Regions from separate parts of the Homo sapiens genome. Here all the other regions are linked to region 3. The links come from fine-mapping of genetic effects on gene expression. A gene starts in region 3. Each other region holds a variant in brackets. All regions are shown on one strand. Distances are from middle to middle.

Region 1 (5,153 bases), 25 kb before region 3:
CACAGGGCAGCCAAGGAGAGAGATATGAGTAGACCCTCAAATCCATCTCCTCAAGAACTTCTGCGTTAGGGTTTTTAAGGGGATTGTGGAGGGTGAGGGGTTGGAAAATTAAGGTTGTTGATTGGGCAGGGGAAGGGGGATGAAATCATTAGGATTTGGAAACTGCATACTGAGTCAGTTCCTCAGTGGGGTCCTTCAGACCAGCTGACATCAGTAGTTTCACTGGTACACAGGATCTGAAAGAATATCTCTAACGGGAAACTTAACATTTCATAATCTTCAGGTTGTTATCTATAGAACAGTTCAGGAGAACTATAATCTAGGGCCTGCCTGATTCTAGCACAAACAGCACCAAACAACTGTGAGGAAGCAGGTCCAAGAGCAGGCTGCTCTCAAGAGTAATGCAAAATTGCTGCAAGCTTGTTTATTTTTGTTTCTCCCCTTCCCTTCTTCCCTGATTAATTTTATAAAGTTTATAGGGACAGTTTCAATGGCTTCAACACAGTATTGCCAGGTAAGGACTTGAACCCAAGAGGCGGAAGTTGCAGTGAGTCAAGACCAAGCCACTGCTGCACTGCCCAGTCTCAAAAAATAAAAATTAAAAAAAAATCAGGCCAACACCTGTTGACACACATTGCTAGGAATCCCTTTGGGAAAGCAAATGGGCTCACGGAACACACGGAGGCCATGGTGGGTGACAATGTTAACTAATTCTGTTCATGGTGTCCAGGGTACAGGCCTGAGGGTCCACTCGCCACCTCTGCCCAAAGCCACGTCTCCACTGCTCCCCTCATCTCCGCACGGATTCCTCCCCACGTGCCTCCCCTTTTCTTGGACTGCCGACACCTGACACCACCAAGGTGACTGCTCCTCCCCACAGCTTCTCTCCTTCAGGGGACTTCACTTCTTGTTCCTCGCTCCATAGTGAGGCGTGACCCAGCGGTCAGCCCAAGGTCTAGCATGCGAATCAGGGACGTGATGGTTCTTTGGGATTCTAGGGATCTACCTGGAGAATAGATGAAAGTAACAAAAGTTTTACATACCAATATTCAAAACTGCATCAAACTACCAGAAACACTTGCCACTTTCAAAGATAGACTATGCTAAGTAGCTCCAGGTGTGTGCCACCATGCCTGGCAAATTTTTGTATTTTTAGTAGAGACTGGGTTTCACCATGTTGGCCAGGCTAGTCTCAAACTCCTGACCTCAGGTGATCCACCTGCCTTGACCTGCCAAAGTGCTGGGATTACAGGAATGGCTCTTGACTCTAACTGCAAGGTCCCTAGATCATTAGATCATTTCCTGAATATCTTATGCTTCAGGCATTGGCCATCACTTGGGTTACCATTGTCATAAATCAAAAGCCTCCACAACCAAGGCCCTTAAACATGGGATAGCCTGTGCAGGGCAGAAGTATAAAGAATATAGAGAAGTGAAGCACAAAACTTGTTGCATTGGCCAGGAATTAAACCAGGGTCTCCTATGCAGGCGGTGAGAATTCTACCACTGGACCACAAATCCGGCTCTTATGTGTGGTCCTGGAGAAACAATTGAAATACAATACTGAAAAAGACAGAAATTGTTCCAAAAGAAGCTTTTTGCAGTATTGACTAAAAGCTAACAGTAGACATCCAAAACCAAGGTTTTTACAGAATACTTTTACTAGACAAAACTATAAATATTAAAATAGCTTATTTGATCAAACTTTAATTCCGAAAAAGGCTCCTTCCAACTGCGTAACAGACTCCTATAGAAAAACATCAGAAATTCATCCAGGTTCCTTGTTTCTGATCCTAAATCTTCAATTTAGGACCTCAACCTCAAACTGTTGCTTTAGTGGCTCTGGGAAGGAAGCACTAACTGGCAGCATAGGTAAGTAAAGTTTTAATCTAGGGAAGAAATAAGAAGCAGAATCAGAATTAGAATTAGAAGAAAGAGGGAATATGCTATACCAGAATATCATAGGCAAAAAAAGAAGACAAAGAAAGAGGAAATGAAAGGACAGAAGGTAATGCTAATGGAGTTAGTTATTTGTGGCCGTTTTTTGTAAAAGAGTAATGATCAGTCTTGTAATCATTATAATACTATTATTTGCTTTCTAAAATGTCTAAAATATTTGAAGGAATTTATGATATAAAAAGATGAATAATGCTTGCAGTCAGTGTTTCATTGTTTGGGAGAACCCAGTTTCCTCAGTTAATACACTTTCGTGTAATAGCTGTTTAAGGAGTAACA[T/A]GGTTTAAAGACATATTAATGGCTGAAATATTAACATATTGGTCTTTTGATGAAGTTCAAATAGAGAGATTTCTTTCCCCAATTTTCCCTGGAAAGATTAAACTGAAGAGAAAAATCTGGAAAGTTTGCCCCACATGTTGGGTCTGGGAGTCATTATGATTTTTTCAAAGACAGGAGTTGTGTATGACATGGAATCATGCTTCTTCTCTAGTTGAGAAGCCAAGCTAGGTCCAGGCTGAGTCATAAACTTGAACCCAACAAGGAAATCACCCTTCACACTGGCCTTGCAGAGCTTTGGCTCAATCTGTTCTCTGCCCAACACCCAAGACACATACTAGTTCTGGCCAACAAACCTTCACATATTGTCTGTGTCAACCAGAGCTACATTTATTCCGAAATCTCTTTCTAAAATACAAACCTGTACTTTCTACTCTCAACCCCAAAATTTACAAGAGGCCTCATATGCATCTCAGAGTCACAGATGCTAAAACTCAACACACCAGTGAGTTCCCTGTCAGCATCATATACTACCCTCTACCTCAATGATCAGCCCCAAGCCAGCATCTCCCAAAGAGTAGTGTGTTGCTGTGGGTGTTTCAACAGATCACTAAAACCTGCTTCTACCCCTGCCTAGACACTTATCCTCACTGCTATGCATCCTGCTCCTCAAATCAGATCTTGATATCTTCTTTAAACACTCCCAATCTCCCAACACGACAATTCATTTCCAAAGAATTATAGTATTTAAATTTATTGGACTCTATACAGACTCATTCCCACTTTGTTACTACGCTGGTCCATCCATCACCTCCATTAACATAAGTAGATCAAAAACTGGCCTCTCTACAGCCAGTCTTGTCTATTCCAACCCATTTGCCACACTGTATCCTGAGTGACCTTTCCACAGTGTAAATCTGGACATACCTGTAGCCTTAAATCATATCTACCAACATAGTAGCCAAGCAACAGCAATCTCTTTTCCTTTGGTCATTAGAGTCCTAGAGACCAAGAGGATGTTGGGAAAAGAATTACCATGGATCAGCTCTCAGAGGCAGTAGGTTCTGGACTCATGCTGGCTTTGATACGTGTGCATTGGAAAAGCTCAAGTACCTGGCAATACTTGGAGATTAGGAAGAAAGGATGAAAATAAACCACTGCACTAAATAACATGACAATAATCACTTATACAAAAATTTTAAAGATAAGGAATATTTAAAGATTTATTAGTTTATTATAGCTTTATAGTTGGAGAGTGAAGAAGAAAATACCAAAGCTTTTTGTCTTAACAAAATGGTGCAGACAGATTAACATATATTGTCACCTATGATAACCAGTCAGCATAAAAAGTATTTAGAAAGGAATGGTTATATTCTCTAAGAGATATATTCTGATGTCATGTTTTTTGCTTTAGAGTCTATTAATATAGCCACCTTTTTGTTAATGTTTTCAGTCAAGCTCCTTTTCTCGCCTTTCATTTCCAACCTTTCTCTCACTTTCTGGTTTAGATACAACTCCTAAATATATCATATAGTTAATTTAAAAATCCAGTGTAGCAGTATTTCGGGGGTTTGTTTTACTGGATAATTTGGTCCACTTACATTTAATGTAATTGTTGATATATATTAATTTTAAATCTACCATCTTTATTTTTTTCTGTTTGTTCTGCTTGTTCTGTTTCTATGTCTTTTCTTGTCTGTTTTGGATTGGTTATTTTTAACTATTATAACATTATATTTTTTTACTTTTTTATATGCTTTGCTTCACTTTCTTCCTTATTGTATTTCCTTTAATTGTATTTAAGTTGCTTCTATTCTTTTGTGGTTACTTTAAAAATTACAATCTTAATCCTTAATTTTTTTTTTTTTTTTTTTTTTTTGAGACAGAGTCTCACTCTGTCTCCAGGCTGGAGTACTGTGCCACGATCTTGGCTCACAGCAACCTCTGCCTCTCGGGTTCAAGTGATTCTCCTGCCTCAGCCTCCCGAGTAGCTGGGACTACAGGTGCAGCTAATTTTTGTATTTTTTTAGTAGAGACAGGGCTTCACTGTGTTGGCCAGGATGGTCTCCATCTCTTGACCTCATGATCCGCCCACCTTGGCCTCCCAAAGTATTGGGATTACAGGCGTGAGCCACCGTGCCCAGCTAATCCTTAATTTATTAAACATAGTAATAATTGATACCGTTATCCTCTTCCTGCACAATATATGGATGTTGGAATACTTTTATTCCATTTAGTCTCATTCTATATATATGCTGTTATCATTTATTAGGTCTAAGTATTAATAGTTTTAAACCCCAGAAGACTAGACATATATTTTATGTAGTTAATGTTAATTTAGATTTATCAACATATGTGCTGCTATCTTACTCTTTATTTCTGCTATGTCTCTGAATTTCCATATGTAATCATGGTCCTTCTGCCTGAGAAACATCATTTAGAATTTCCTTTTGTGTTGGTCTGCTTGTGAAAAACTGTTTCAGCTATTTTTCTCTGAAAGTGTCTTTATTTGCTTTAATTATTGGAGATTATTTTTACTAAGTATGTAATTCTGGAGGCAGTTATTTTCTTTCAGCATATTGAAGATATTTACATTTGATTGTTTCTTTTCAGAAGGCAGCCAATTGTCTCGCTGCTGCTTATTTGAATGTAATGTTCCTTTTTTTCCTCTGTTTTTTGTCTTTACTATTTTTGTCTTTGTTTTTTTTTTTTTATTGTCTGCAGTTTTACTACTCTGTCTTTAGGTATGGAGTTCCCTTTATTTATCTTCTTTGATTGGTAGGCCTTCTAGAATCTGTTGACTTTTGAGTTTCATTTTGTCTGGAAAACTCTCAAGTATTATCTCTTCAGTTATTGCCTCTATTTTCTCTCTCTTCTACTTTTGAGCCTCTAACTAAAAATAAAGTAGACTTTCTCACTCT
Region 2 (5,153 bases), 810 kb before region 3:
ATTCTTATAAGCCCTTTGATATTTAGCAGAGGCATTTCTTTCCTCCAGAAGCTTACAGTGTCCTTTCTGCATTAGGATCTTAGTGCAACACTGCTCTGCAAACTTGGACCAGGGCAGAGTGAGATAGCAGAGGAGCTGTGCCAGCGTCTACAGCGAAAGGAAAGGATGCTGCAGGACCTTCTAAGTGATCGAAATAAACAAGTGCTGGAACATGAAATGGAGATTCAAGGCCTGCTTCAGTCTGTGAGCACCAGGGAGCAGGAAAGCCAAGTAAGGATTAATGCACAGATCAGACAAGTGTCATGTAGTGCATTTATAGTCTGCAAATAGGAAGCATTTGCAGACTATAGATGTGTGTATATTTATATATTTTACCGTCAACTCTGTTAGTTTCTTTCCTTCTATTTATTACCTAAACCACAGTTTTATTTATTTACTTACTTATTTAGAGATGGGGGTTTCGCTGTGTTGCACAGGCTGGTCTCAAACTCCTGGGCTCAAGCAATCATCCTGCCTTGGCTTCCCAAAGTGCTGGGACTATACGTGTGAGCTGCTGCGCCTGGCCTTAGACCACAGTTTTACATTAATCATCAAAGTATGACACATTTCTTGAAAACCTTGCATTTGGAAGGGTGCCTAAACAATACATGTATCCATTAACTTCATTACATACATTTTCTTTTCCTTAATAATCTGATAATTTTGAGAGAAAGGAGTAGGGGTTGTGAGTGTTTCGATTTTGATTCTAAATTGTTAAGACTTGAGTGATATTTTGCATTTCCAGTCAAGGTATGGGAAAACTTACACTCAACATGTTTACTCTTAGTTTTTGTAAAATCTGAGTTAAGAGGGAAAAAAGATCGCATTTTTCAGAGGTCATGGTGAGAATAAACAATCTCATAATAGTACAGGGTATATTAATTTCACAATATTTAAGAAGTAAATTCTTTTTTTTTTTTTTTTTTGAGATGGCATCTCCCTCTGTCACCCAGCTGGAGTGCGATGGCGCAATCTTGGCTCACTGCAACCTCTGCCTCCTGGGTTCAAGCAATTCTTCTGCTTCAGCCTCCCAAGTAGCTGGGATTACAGGCATGCACCACCATGCCCGCTAAGTTTTGTATTTTTAGTAGAGATGGGGTTTCACCATGTTGGCCAGGCTGGCTTACGATTCCTGGCCTCAAGTGATCCACCCATCTCAGCCTCCCAAAGTGCTGGGATTACAGGCGTGAGCCACCATGCCCTGCCCATAGTAAAGTGTTAATTTTTCCTCATTTCTATGTGTTTTCTCCTCAAGGCTAAAAACTCTTAGTTGACTTGTGCTGCATTTCAGATACCAGTAGCTCAGAATCCCCGTAGTCAGTTTTTAGAGGAAGATAGACTCTTTTTTGCCTATGTTATTTGACCCCATAATATTTTCTTATGTTTTCTTATGTTGTGAAAGGATTATACTCCACTATTCTAATTGTTAGGCCCACTGAAGTAAATACACATCTTTCTAGAAAGGTCCTGCTGTGTGCTTCAGAAATTGTTTCTAAAATAGACCTAACAAAATTATTCTAAATTATTTAAATCTTTGGCAAGAGGCTAGGATCTTTGAGTTTTCTTTTTAACTTCTTTGTGATTTGGGACAATTGGTCTTTATTATACCTCAGAAAAAAAATTATGCACTGCTGGTAATAGAATAATGGAGATGATGGAAATTACAGGAGATTTTTCAACTCAAGAAGATTAATGGTTGTATTCTTCTAGATCTGCTTCTCTAAATTTACGTGCAAAAGAAATCACCTGAATAGCTTTTTAAAGATGTAGATTGTGGAGCTCAACTCCAGAGAAAGAAATTACGAGGTATAGGTGGGACTTAAGAATTTGCATTTCTAACAAGTTTCCAGGTGATAGTGATGCTGCAGGTTCGGGGACTGCATTGGAGGAGCACTGCTAAAAACTCTTAAATACTACGAGAAAAGGAGTGCCAAGGCAGATAGAGCACAGTATATATCTTGTATATTATTTATTATGTTTTTTCCCCACAGTTTTCACAGATATTTTTATTAAGGTACTTTAATAATATTCTGATACGTCTAAAATAGTTAAATTCAAATCTCCAAAGAGCCCAAATTTTACTTACTGAAAAGTGGAAGGTTTTTTCATATTTCCCCTAGAAATTGTGACAAGAGCTCAGCTTCTGCCCTAAAACAATAGTACTTTTCCTCAGAGACAGTTGGTGTTATGATTCATCATCTTAGACCCTCAGTAATTTTAATATCAATTTATTATTTCCAGATTTTCTGTTTAAATGCAGACTTCCTGTGCATTAATAGTTAAAAATGTTCTAGATCTTTCCCTTAGTGTGTCATCATCTGTCTTAGAAAACTGGGATTTGAAATGAAACAAGCTGAGTTGGGTGATTTTGAGGTTGAGATTATCCTAATCATGTGGTCTGATAAACATGTTTATGTGCGTAATTGATTCATTCAGTAAATATGTAGTGTGTGCCTATTATGTGCCAGACACCGTACTGGGTGCTTGAGATTCAGCACCAAATTGCCTTTAGGAAACTTACATTCCATGTAGGGGAAGCAGAGAGAGAGATCTATTAGATAATGGTAAGTGCATCGAAAAAAAATTAAGCACAGTAAGAAGTGTTGGAGATAGAGAAGAGATTGCTGGGTTTTAAAAAAAATTTTTTCCCAGCTTTA[T/C]TAAAGTATAATTGACAAATATTGTATATACTCAAGGTGTACAGCATGATGTGTTGATATACATATACATTTTGAAGTGATTGCCACAAATTAACACATCCGTCACTACACATTTTATGCGTGTATGGTGAAACCACTTAAGATCTACTCTCTTAGCAAATTTCAAGTAAATAATACAGTATTATTAACTAAAGTCACCATGCTATCATTGGATCCCCAAAACATATTCATCTTATACTTTGGCCAGCAAGATTGCTGTTTTGGATAGGATACGCAGGAAAGACCAACCTGATAAGGTGACATTTGGCAAAGACCTGAAGGGAGCAAACCACACAAATGTTTGAGTGAAAAGGAATCCACCCCTAAGAAGCAACTATCCGAGAATAAAGACATTTGTTATACTAATTCAAACCAGAATCTTAACACCTTAGCCTGATAGTTGTAGCAGAACCTATTTCAGATTCTCTTATCTGTTACAGATGTGTTAAATTCAGTTTTTTTTCCCAATATTCTGCCTATGAGACTTTCTTTCCATTCACTTAACTCTGTTTTTCCCTGTAAACTGAAAGCAAGGAAACTATTTCCTAAGGACCCACTGTTTTTTGTTGTTGTCATTGTTGTTTGTTTTTTACAAATGGTTGACTTTGAAGAAATAATACCAGAACAAAAAATTTGTTTTACTAGAATATCTTTATAATGTTATTTGTGATTTCCTCTTACTAGGCTGCTGCAGAGAAGTTGGTGCAAGCCTTAATGGAAAGAAATTCAGAATTACAGGCCCTGCGCCAATATTTAGGAGGGAGAGACTCCCTGATGTCCCAAGCACCCATCTCTAACCAACAAGCTGAAGTTACCCCCACTGGCCGTCTTGGAAAACAGACTGATCAAGTAAGAACTATAGACTTACATAATTCATGCTGATTCCATTTCCTTTTTACATTTGAGGTGTAAGTTTGATAATTTTAATACCAAATTCTGAGAATATTCTCAGTACTGTCATTGTGATCATAGTTCCTGCATCTTCCTAAGTCCCCTGACTTTTGCAATTTTTTAGGGTTCAATGCAGATACCTTCCAGAGATGATAGCACTTCATTGACTGCCAAAGAGGATGTCAGCATACCCAGATCCACATTAGGTAAGTATCAAATTTCATTTCATTAAGGGACTTTGTTTTTCTCTTGTTTTTTCTTCTAGTAATCTCTGTATTATAGGTTTGGCCAAGACTCTTTTCTCTTCCTACCTTAATAGAACAAATAAGTTTGGAATTCCTCTGAAAGGCTGAAGAACTGTCCTTACCTTATGTTGAGTTGAGCTGATTGCTCTGGGTTCACAATTCGGCCCAGAGAAATTCTATCCTTACTCTCCTTTTCAGATAGCTTTGCAGGGATTCAGAAATGCAGGAGGTAATTGTTCCAATCCTGCACAGCAGGGCCATGAGCTGACACCTTTTCCTGGGTATCGTTTCAAGTCTGGGGCCACTCACTGTAACTTGACATCACCTACTAATGTTATATATATATATAATGTTAGCATAGTTTGATAGTTTCTGGCACAATAAGATGTTCTATGATTACCTTTTGCTTTACCTGCCTCAGTCCCAGAATCAGCCATTATCCTAAAGAGCTCCCTGGTTCCTTTTGGTGGGTAATGGCATTCAGAAACTATGATCTGGACACAAGATGTGTTCATTGCTACATGAATGCCTTTTGCTTCTAGGACCTTTTTTTTTTTTGAGACGGAGTCTCGCTCTGTCACCCAGGTGGGAGTGCAGTGGCACGATCTCTCTGCTCACCTCTCGAGTAGCTGGGACTACAGGCGCCAGCCACCACACCCAGCTAATTTTTTTGTATTTTTAGTAGAGACGGGGTTTCACCGTGTTAGCCAGGATGGTCTCAATCTCCTGACCTCGTGATCCGCCCTCCTCGGCCTCCCAAAGTACTGAGATTACAGATGTGAGCCACTGCGCCCAGCCGCTTCTAGGCCCTTTTAAGAGAACAGAACTAGCAATGAATATTTTTAAGTATGTATGTGTGTATTTGTATATATGTGAAGATTTGATACTGATTTCCTTAATTCCAATTTAACAATATAGGTTCTTTTTTCCCTCATTTCATATTTGTATCTCCTTGAGAGCCCTGGTTACTTATAGCATCAATATATTTCAAAATATTTACACAGTTGCAGAATACTATAATATGCAAAAGTATTTTTGGAATTGTTACATAAATATCACCATCAACAATAAATGTATTAAGTAATGTTTAAGATTTTTTTGTAATTCTTTTTATCCTTAGGATATTTTGCACTGACAGTGTTCAGTTAGAGTAGTAGTGAGTTCAAAAATTATTTGGATTAATTTTTTTATTATCTTCTGGATGGTTTTGTTATCTATTTGCTATATAGATTTATTTATTTATATTAGTATTCAATTTTAGACCTTTTCTCTCTCATTCATT
Region 3 (5,145 bases):
AAACAACAATACTTATTAGAAAGAAAGTATTTTATCCTTCCAGGCTATAGATCTTACATTCCTCTTACACAACAATCCTAATTCCCTCATGTTATCCTGATCAATGAAATGATTTCACTTATTTTTCAAAGAAGTAGCTATTTTACTACAAAGCAGGAATCGCAAGGCATGGGGTGGGCACTGTTATACTCCATCAGTGAGTACGTAAAGGAAATCAAACTGTCTGATTTTGAATCCTGCTTCTATTTTTTACAACCTTGGACAAATTACTGATTTCCTCTTTCACTAGGTTTATCATTTGTAAAATGGAGATACTAGTGTCTACTCATGGATTATTGTGAGGCTTAAATAAGAAAACATGTATCAAGCATATTTGTCTGGCATGTAATAAGCACTCTAAAATTTATGCAGTGATGAGGATAATGATCATAGACAATCTGATAGCATCTTATCCAAAGGAAAAAATGCGCATTTCCTTTGAGTAAGCACTACTGATTCTAGGAATGTGTCCTAAGGAAAAAATAAGTCAAATGTTTAAAGGTAGTCACAAGACTATTTTGGTAGTAAGCAGTCTTTTTTACTGGTCACACAGTAAAAAATTAGAAATAACCTACATGTTCATGAAGAGAAGTTGGTGAAATAAATTATGGTACATGCATACAGTAGAAAACTTTGGAGACAAAATAGTAAAATAGTTACAGATATAGGCTTTGAATATAAATTTTAACAAGCTGAGGCTTCTCTCGTCTCTTCAGAACACCCTGAGTTCTTCCCGGCCTTTCTTCCTTGCTTTTCATTTGTGTCAGTCAGCTCTTGCTCGTATAGCAATCCTCAAATCTCAGTAGCATATAAAGGTAAGCATTTAGTTCTCACTTACAAGTTTGCAGGGCAGGTGAGGCAGCTCTGCCTCAAGCCACAATGTCTAGGACAGCTCTGTTTCGCACTGTGGCTGACTAGCTAAAAAATGTTCTTGTCTCAGCAATCACAGGAGAACAAGAGGGTGAGAGATAATGTGTGAAGCTTCCTAAGTGCTAAGTTTGAAATTAGCACCATGTCATTTCCATTCACATTTCGCTGGCCAATGAAAGTCTCATGATGAGCCACAGTCAAGAGTCAGAGACATACCCTCATGAGGCTGTGGAGAGAGTGTAGATTCAGGGAGCGGTGAGAAACTGGGGCCAGTACACCAACTTACAGCATGATTTGTCATCATTTTTCATTCTCTGCTAGTAAGATTGCCAAAGTCTCTCTGCACTCATTGAATTCATTTAGCTCTCTTTAGCTCTCTTTTTTTAGCTCTCATTTAGTTTCCATTTAGCTCTCTTTCTCTCTTACCACAATACCTAAAAATCTTTTTATGGGGTTACAACTCTGTCTCAGGAGCCACCTCAGTTTGGTGGCACAGAGCTCCCCACTTGTACTCTGAAACTCTTTTCTTGAAGATATTGCTATCCATGTGCATGAGTTATTTTTCTTCTCCATAGCATCCACATTAAACAATTAATTACCTTGGATTTAGCCAAAATAAACACTCCAAATTCATGATGTCTTTCAGGAAGAGAGTTTGTTTTCTTTTTTAACCAAAATGGGAGATTGATCCTGTCTGTGTCCCCTAGAGGAGCAGAGGCTGGTTTGTATTAGGGCAGCTCTTGTAGATGAGTAACTTTTCCCATGGCCTCATAGAGGCTGATATAGAAACTTCTGGATTCAAATGATTGTTTGGAGGCATTAGCCAGGCATTGAACCAATTATAAAGAGTGAGGTTTTGCCATATTCTAACCGTAAGAAACAGAAACGGTAGAGGGTAAAAATAGAATAGAATGTCAATACAACTTTAGCCTTTTCCCTGGATTCTGAGAGTTCATAACCTGAAAATCAGAGATTCAAACTGGGAGAGATGGGCTAACAGGTATGAGCATGGGAAAAGCATGTTTCAAGAATTTGAGATGTATTTCCCAGAAAAGCAACATGATGAAAATGGTCAGAAAAGGCAATTTCCTTCCTCTTTTCTAATTTGGCTCTGGAGCCACCAGCAGAACCTCTTCAATATCTTGCATGTTACAGATTTCACTGCTCCCACCAGCTTGGAGACAACATGTGGTTCTTGACAACTCTGCTCCTTTGGGGTAAGTTGGACTCAGAGGGGACAGTTAGAAGGGTACAGGCTGTGGCTGTTGTGAGTCAAGAGTTTTGTCTTCCTGTGGTAACTCTGGGTAGAACTCATGAGTATGAAGCAACTTGTATCTGTGCTTCCATGGTTTATTAGAGCTTATTTTATGAAAAGGATGGGAAGGGCAACCCTGAGGTAGCATTAAGCCTGGACGCACCGCAGTGAAGTTTCCTTGATAACCACCTGTAGCTTGTTCAGTTCTGTTAGTACTGGATTTTGAGAAAGAGAAATAGAAACTCAAGAGATCTGAGTTGATCCCTCAGAGTCTACATTAATTCTGTCTCCCCAATTCTCTCTTCCTCATTATTTTCCTTGGACCAACTGATATCTTTATTCTCTGATCTCTTGCAGTTCCAGTTGATGGGCAAGTGGGTGAGTGATCTCTAACTCAGCTTCTCCTTCTATGCCACTTTCCTACTTCCAAAGGATGGGTCCTATTAACCTGCAGAAGAGCATATAGGGAAAGCAGAGAAAGAAGAAAGATTTATAAATTATGTAAAATCTCCCATATTCAGAGCATGATTTTCATAAAAACTATGATTTGTAAGCTTTCTTTCTAAAGTTTTCTGAATGAGCTCTTTCCTCTGAGCGAAATGCCTGAATGTATATATAACAGCAGGAAAGGGCCAGAATTGCACAAACACTAAAGTAGTCTGCTGACACTGAAGTAGTCTGCTGGGTTTCCCAACATCCCCTAAACCAGTCCCCTTTACAAGAAAGCAGAGTGGGTTTTTTCTCCTCAGAAAGAGCCAGGCAAATACTGAAGGCTTCAAAGAGAGGAGTTTGAACCTCCGTTTCCAATGTACAAGCTGCTGAAGCCCTGCAATGTACTCTCAGAGACAGTATAGCTCAGAGGATAAGGAAAACAGCTCCGCTTGGCTTGCCCAAGTCTAAAACCCTGCTTCATTGCTCCCAACAGAAAAACCTACATCAGTAATTTAATCCTCAGGAGCCCCAGATTCCCAACACCCAGATGAGGATTTAATAACAATGAACAGAGGTCTCTGCAGCAGGAGGACACTCTTAAAGGCTGGCTTTTGTAGGTTTCCACTTGCCTATTTTTCAAATAAATCTAAATATGTATTTTTCCCTTGTGCTATCCACAAAAGCCTCACCAGTTGCTCAGAGCCCTCCCCTTTACTCCACTTGATCTTTTTCTTTTTCTTCTTGTAATCTCCAAGTAGACACCACAAAGGCAGTGATCACTTTGCAGCCTCCATGGGTCAGCGTGTTCCAAGAGGAAACCGTAACCTTGCACTGTGAGGTGCTCCATCTGCCTGGGAGCAGCTCTACACAGTGGTTTCTCAATGGCACAGCCACTCAGACCTCGACCCCCAGCTACAGAATCACCTCTGCCAGTGTCAATGACAGTGGTGAATACAGGTGCCAGAGAGGTCTCTCAGGGCGAAGTGACCCCATACAGCTGGAAATCCACAGAGGTAATTATGACTTGGACCAGGAGGGCCGGAAACCACAAGGTCTTCCTCTGCGTTCTCTCCTTTCTGGATGCCAGATGTGTGTGTGTCGATTTATCTGGGTGCAGGTCTCAGCACTATGTACCTACCAGGTGAAACTAAATCAGTATACTCAAAACATCACAGCAGGGTCCTTAAACTGTGTACCAACAGTACCTCAGCTAGGCCAGCTCTAAGTAGGATGTCTAGAGTAAGACTTAGGCCCTAAGATTGTATCATTATTCCAAATGTATGCCTGTACATAGTAAATAATAATAATTCAAACAAATGAGCAATAATGAACAATGAAATATCTTCCTCCCACCCAAAACCTAGATCTGCAGTCACCTTCCACAGAAACAAAACTGCTAATATATATATACATATTATGCATATATATGTATATATTAGCATTATTATATATAAACTATATATATATATATATATACACACATATATATAGTTTTAAAGCTGTGGGTGGTAGAACACTTTCTAAGTATTGTCCTATATCTTACTTTTATCACTTAAAATACCTTAAAGTTCTGTTTATATTAATAGAAATCCACTTTAAAATGTCTGCTGCACAGCTGTACCAGAATTAATTTAACCATTCTGCCTATTAGCAAATTTATAAGATGTTTCCACTCTTTTGATTTTACAAGCATTGCTGCAATAATTATCTTTATACATACATTCCGGGGGCACATTTCATAGGGTATCTGTAAGATAATATTCTGGACATGGAATTATTGTCATATTTTAATAAATGGAAGCAGAAAAGCCCACCACCCACTTAAACCTGTAAGGAGTTTCTATTCATCAAGAGATGGAGACTGCAATATTCTTCAGGGAAAAATGCTTCATTCAATATGCAAGACAAAATAACCAAATGTATTATTTAGTTATTCAGAAGTGATGAGTTTAAACTTCGTTAAAAATGATAATGCAAAAGTCAATCCACACTGGAGGCAAAATTGCCTTTATGCAGACATGGTTGCTGTTAGAGGAAATGTGTTTTAGCCAAGGAAATGTTGAGAATGTCTGAGGGAAGGCTTGATGTTCCTCATGTGTCCCTTAGGTCTCTGTAAATAAGTTCTTAGGATGGAGAGGTTAGGGAAGCTGACAGAGCTGTTTCGTTTTTTTTTTTTTTTTTTTTTTTTTTGAGACAGAGTCTCACTCCGTTGCCCAGGCTGGAATGCAGTGGTGTGATCTTGGCTCACTGCAACCTCTGACAGAGCTGTTTCAACAAGATACTTTGGGTAATTCAAGCAGAAGTGTTTCATGGTTCAAGTGACAACAAAAGGACTAGGGCTGGGAAGAGTCCATTTTCTTTACCTCTACACAGACTCTAGGACACTCAGCATCAGTGACTTACTGAGAATCATATCTTTTTTATATTACATTTTAATGTGAATTTTCATTGAAATATAACTTATGTACAACAAGCCATAAATGTATGCCACAGTAAATTTTTTCAAAGTAAACAGCATCCAGATCTATTTTAGACATTTCCAGCACCTC
Region 4 (5,153 bases), 51 kb before region 3:
AAAAAGCATTTGACAAAATTCAACACTCATTCATCATAAAAACTCTCAACAAAGTGGGAATAGAGGAGACCTTCCTCAACTTGATAAAGAACATCTATAAAAACTCTACACTAATGTCATACTAGAAACTAGAAGCTTTCTCACTAACATCAACAATAAGGCAAGAATTTCCCCACTTACCACTTCTTTTCACCATCATACTGGAAATCCTAGCTAATGCAGTAAGATAAGCAAAGGAAATAAATGGTATACAGATTAGAAAAGATGAACTAAAACTGTCTTTGTTCACACGTGATGCAGTTATTGTATTATAGAAAATCTCCAACATGGTGAAACCCCGTCTTTACAAAAAATACAAAAATTAGCCGGGCGTGGTGGCATGCGCTTGTAATCCAGCTACTTGGGAGGCTGAGGAAGGAGAATTGCTTGAATCCGGGAAGCAAAGGTTGCAGTGAGATGACATCGTGCCACTCTGCACTCCACCCTGAGTGACAAAGTGAGACACTGACTCAAAAAAAAAAAAAAAAAAAGGCCGGGCGCGGTGGCTCATGCCCGTAACTCCAGCACTTAGGGAGGTCGAGGTGGGCGGATCATGAGGTCAGGAGATCGAGACCATCCTGGCTAACACAGCGAAACCCCGTCTCTACTAAAAAAACAAAATAGTAGCCAGGCTACTCAGGAGGCTGAGGCAGGAGAATGGCTTGAACCCAGGAGGCGAAGCTTGCAGTGAGCCGAGATTGAGCCACTACACTCCAACCTGGGCGACACAGTGAGACTCCATCTCAAAAACAAAAAGAAAAGAAAAGAAAATCTGAAAGAATTGACAACAAAAATCTCCTGGAACTAGTAAGTGATTATGTCAAGGTAAAATCTAACAAAACATGTACAAGATCTGTATGAGGAAAACTGCAAAACTCTGTTGAGAGAGATCAAAGAAGCACTAAATACACAGAGAGATATTCTGTGTTCATGGACAGGAAGACTAAATATTGTCAAGATGTCAGTTCTTCCCAACTTGATCTAAAGATTCAATGCAATACCAATCAAAATCTCAGCAAATAAATTTTGTGAATATCAACTAATAGATGCTAAGGTGTACATAGAGAGGCAAAAGACCCAGAATGGCCAACACAATATTGAAAAGGAACGGAGGGCTGATATGACCTGACTTCAAGACTTACTGTAAAGCTACAGTAATCAGGACAGTATAAGATTTGTGAAAGAATAGACAAATAAGTCAGCGGAACAGAATAGAGATTCCAGAAGACTCCAAAATATAGCAGATTGATCTTTGACAAAGGGACAAGGGCAATACAATGGAGAAAAGATAGTATTTTCAAAAAATGGTGCTGGAACAGCGGGACATCCACATGCAAAAAAAGTGAATCTAGACACAGACTTCACATTCTTCATGAAAACTTACACAAAATGGATCATAGGCCTAAATGTAAAACATAAAATGATTAAAAAAAAAAACCCTAAAAGATAACAACAGCTGAAAATCTAGATGACCTTGGGATTGGTGATGACTTTTTATTTATTTTATTTATTGATCTAAAGATTCAATGCAATACCAATTTTAATTTAGAGACAGAGTCTCTAAATAAATTAATTATTTTATTTATTTGTTGGAGGGCATGATCATGGCTCACTGAAGCATTCCTTGGGCATGATCATGGTGTGATTATGGCTCACTGCAGCCAAACTCTTGGGCTCAAGTGATCCTCTTGCCTCAGCCTTCCAAAGTGCTGGGATTGCAGGTGTGAGCCACCGAGCCCAGCTATATGATAACTTTTCAGATATAACACAAAAGGCATGATCCACAAAAGAAATAATTGATAATCTGGACTTCATTAAAATTAAAAACTTCTGCTCTGCAAAAGGCACATCAAGAGAATGAGAAGACAACACACTGGGTGAAAATATTTGCAAAAGACATATCTGGTAAAGGACTATTAAGCCAAATACACAAAGAACTCTTAAACTCAACAATAAGAAAATGAACCACACAATAAAAAATGGGCAAAAAACCCTGAACAGACACCTCACCAAAGATGATGGCAAATAAGAATATGAAAAGATGCTCAACATCATATGTCATTAGGGAATTGCAAATTAAAACAACAAGATACCACTCTACACCTATTAGAATGGCAAAATCCAGAACACTGATAACACCAAATGCTGGTAAGGATGTGGAACAACAGATATTCTCATTCCTTGCCGGTGGGAATGCAAAATAGTACAGCCACTTTGGAAGACAGTTTGGCATTTTCTTGTGAAACTAAACATACTCTTACCAAATGACCTAACCATCTGCTCCTCAGTATTTTCCCAAGCGAGCTGAAAACTTAAGTTCACACAAAAACCTGCACATGATGTTTATAGCAGCTCTATTCATAACTGCAAAAACTTGGAAGCAACCAAGATGTCCTTCAGTAGGTGAATGGATAAATTTTGGTACATGCAGTCAATGGAATATTATTTGGTACTAAAAAGAAATGAGTTATGAAGCCATGAAAAGACATGAAAGAACCTTAAGTGTGTAAGTGAAAGAAGCCAACCTAAAAAAGCTACATACTGTATGACTCTGACTATATGACACTATGGATAGGTAAAACAGTGGAGACAGTAAAAAGATCAGTGGTTGCCAGGTGTTAGGAGGGAAAGGAGAATGAATAGGCAGAGCACAGAGAATTTTTAGGGCAGGGAATAGTCATTCTTTATTACAATGGTGGATGCATGCCATTATACATTTATACTTGTGTCAAAATCTATAGAATATACACCACCAAGAATGAACCCCACTGTAAACTGTGGACTTTGGGTGATGATGAGTCAATGTAGGTTCATCAGTTGTACCAAATGTTATCACTCGGGGGCAAGATGTTGATAGTGAGGGAGGCTGTGTCCGTGCAGGGGTAGGGGGCATATGGGAACTCTCTGTTACTTTCCACTCAATTTTGCTGTGAACTTAAAGCTGCTCTTAAAAAGTCCATTAAAAAAAAGAATGATCACAGAAGTATAATTTTTAAAAATATATTTGATGAAGTGGGTGTAGTGTAGCCTTTGTGAATCGAGAGCACAGGATTCTAATGTTATCTCTGCCAGAGGCTATTATGCAACTTTGATCAAATGACTATCTCTTAGGGCCTAAGTGTTCTCAGTTCTAAAATGAGGTAATGAGACTAACTGACTCTAGAGTTTTTTGG[GTGTTTTGTTT/G]TGTTTTGTTTTGTTTTGTTTTGTTTTGTTTTGTCTGAGATGGAATCTTGCTCTGTCATCCAGGCTGAAGTGCAGTGGCGCTATCTTGGCTCACTGCAATCTCCACCTCCCAGGTTCAAGCAATTCTCCTGCCTCAGCCTCCCAAGTAGCTGGGATTACAGGTGCCCACCACCATGCCCAGCTAATTTTTGTATTTTTAGTAGAGACGGGGTTTCACCATGTTGGCCAGGCTGTCTCCAATTCCTGACCTCAAGTGATCTGCCCACCTCAGCCTCCCAAAGTGCTGAGATTACAGGCGTGAGCCACTGCGCCTGGCCTAGCGTTATTTTAGCCCTAACATTATTCTCTGGGTCAGTGAAATTTAAGTGGAATATATTGGGCAGTGACCTAATGGAGCATGAAGCAGGATTTGAATCACTTCCAAAGCTGTGCACCAACCACTTAGGCAAATTACTGATTTCAGTAACTTAGTATTTCAGTAACTGGCGCTCACAGGCAAATGCGTAATGGATTAACCCCATATTATTTAAATGCTTCCAAAAAGCTATAGGAAAATGGCCATTAAAAACAAACTGACAAATTTAGCCAACAAGCCACTATTTGACAATTCTGCAAGCTTATTTTTAAAATTCAGCTTATCAAAACTGCCATTCCAGAAGCCAGGGACCTGAGTTTCCATAGAGGATGGAGTAGAATGGAGGGGCCTCTGTATAAATCTACCTCCTCGGGAACTGGGACAGTTCAGCATTCACCAGAGTAACATATGAAGAAACAGGAGATTCCTACATGCTCCTGGGGATCCAGAAGAGAGACCACTCACATGACTGGAAGATTTCCAGCTCAGGTAACCACAAAGGCCATATATTTGGTGAATACATGCAATGTTAGTTAGAATAAAACCAAATTTCTCTGAATAATATAAAGTCATTACTAATAAAACTTTTATAGATTTTTCTCTGAAGAAATTTCCAGGAAGGTATTAAGAGAAAGCCCTACAATTAAGGTATGGAGGCTGGCTGCAGGCCCTGAAAGCTACTCTGACGAGCAATGACTTAATGCTGATAGTGGGAAGTCTCTTGCCCACTGCAGGATACAGAGAATTCTTCCTCAACCCGAGGCTTCTGCTCATTCACTCCCTTCTCAGCAGGTCCCTTCTTCTCTGAGGGCTGATGCATCCCAGCCTTCTGCTGGGACATTTTCTCATGAAGAGCTCTCTTACAGCCGTCTTTGAAAGGAAGGACAGAGAAGAAAGATGTCTATGTCTTCACAATGGCCAGGCTTTTCTCCAAAACTACCTAAAGCAATTGAAACAAAATTATGGCTTACAGAGGTTAGATTATTAGTGGAGATCCTGTAGGACGATAGAATCTCAAGAGCAGAGCCTACCAGGAAGTAGAGTGAAGCCTACAACTTCCTCAGCCATGAGGACCCAACAATCCACTGGGTAAAAGAAAGATGCAGCAAGTGCTGGGGTGGGGTCGGGGTGGGTGCTGTTATGAGAAGGAAGGGGAGGTCCCACAGGTGTTTAGAAGAAAAAACAGGCAATAAATGAATGAAAACAAATGGGGTTTAAACTAAGCTAAGGGATGAGTATTTTTGTTTCTTATAGCTGAGATAAAGTTCTTATGAAGTTCCCAGGGAATGTCCCTTCAGAGGTCAGGAAGCATTTTGCTTCCACAAGTTTTGAGAGTCATGAAGGCAGGAACACATTTTCAGATGCCAGAGCTCAAATCCCATGTCACTGGGACATCAACAATAGTGCTATGGGGAAGACTCAGGGTGCCAGCTCTTGAGTCACAATCACAGAATTAGAATGTGGAAGTAGCTACAGAACCCAAGGAAGCCCTGACTTCTGATAGCCACACTCAATGCAAGGCTGCGTATTTCACCCTGGAGGTCTCTATAACAGGGGAGGCCACCCCCTCAATAGC

What was found. PIP is the estimated chance that this variant, and not a neighbour inherited with it, causes the effect. A credible set is the group of variants that fine-mapping cannot tell apart.
Region 1: its variant is the best candidate, but not a certain one, in a credible set for the expression of FCGR1A in blood mononuclear cells (TOPMed, PIP 0.56).
Region 2: its variant is the best candidate, but not a certain one, in a credible set for the expression of FCGR1A in whole blood (INTERVAL, PIP 0.86).
Region 4: its variant is the best candidate, but not a certain one, in a credible set for the expression of FCGR1A in whole blood (INTERVAL, PIP 0.90).

What each region holds. Positions count from the first base shown.
Region 1 is chr1:149,755,271-149,760,423 of GRCh38, forward strand. The region is part of intron 2 of LOC105371406 (a long non-coding RNA gene); the gene reads left to right. It also overlaps the pseudogene TRR-CCT8-1. Among named protein-coding and RNA genes, the nearest start is that of TRN-GTT8-1, 18 kb to the left of the region's middle. The variant T/A (reference allele first, on the strand shown) is at 2,236.
Region 2 is chr1:148,968,761-148,973,913 of GRCh38, forward strand. It overlaps PDE4DIP (phosphodiesterase 4D interacting protein), which reads left to right. Exons shown (of 47, transcript NM_001395426.1): 17 at 76-270; 18 at 3,420-3,584; 19 at 3,751-3,832. Among named protein-coding and RNA genes, the nearest start is that of PDE4DIP, 130 kb to the left of the region's middle. The variant T/C (reference allele first, on the strand shown) is at 2,697.
Region 3 is chr1:149,780,649-149,785,793 of GRCh38, forward strand. FCGR1A (Fc gamma receptor Ia) reads left to right here and starts at 2,046. Exons shown (of 6, transcript NM_000566.4): 1 at 2,046-2,126; 2 at 2,522-2,542; 3 at 3,355-3,609. The coding sequence starts at 2,096. It overlaps LOC124904411, which reads right to left. Exons shown (of 2, transcript XM_047438183.1): 2 at 2,242-2,612. It also overlaps a transcript of H2BC18 not described here.
Region 4 is chr1:149,729,866-149,735,018 of GRCh38, forward strand. LOC105371406 (a long non-coding RNA gene) reads left to right here and starts at 3,750. Exons shown (of 4, transcript XR_007066595.1): 1 at 3,750-4,666. It also overlaps the pseudogene PDE4DIPP7. The variant GTGTTTTGTTT/G (reference allele first, on the strand shown) is at 3,213.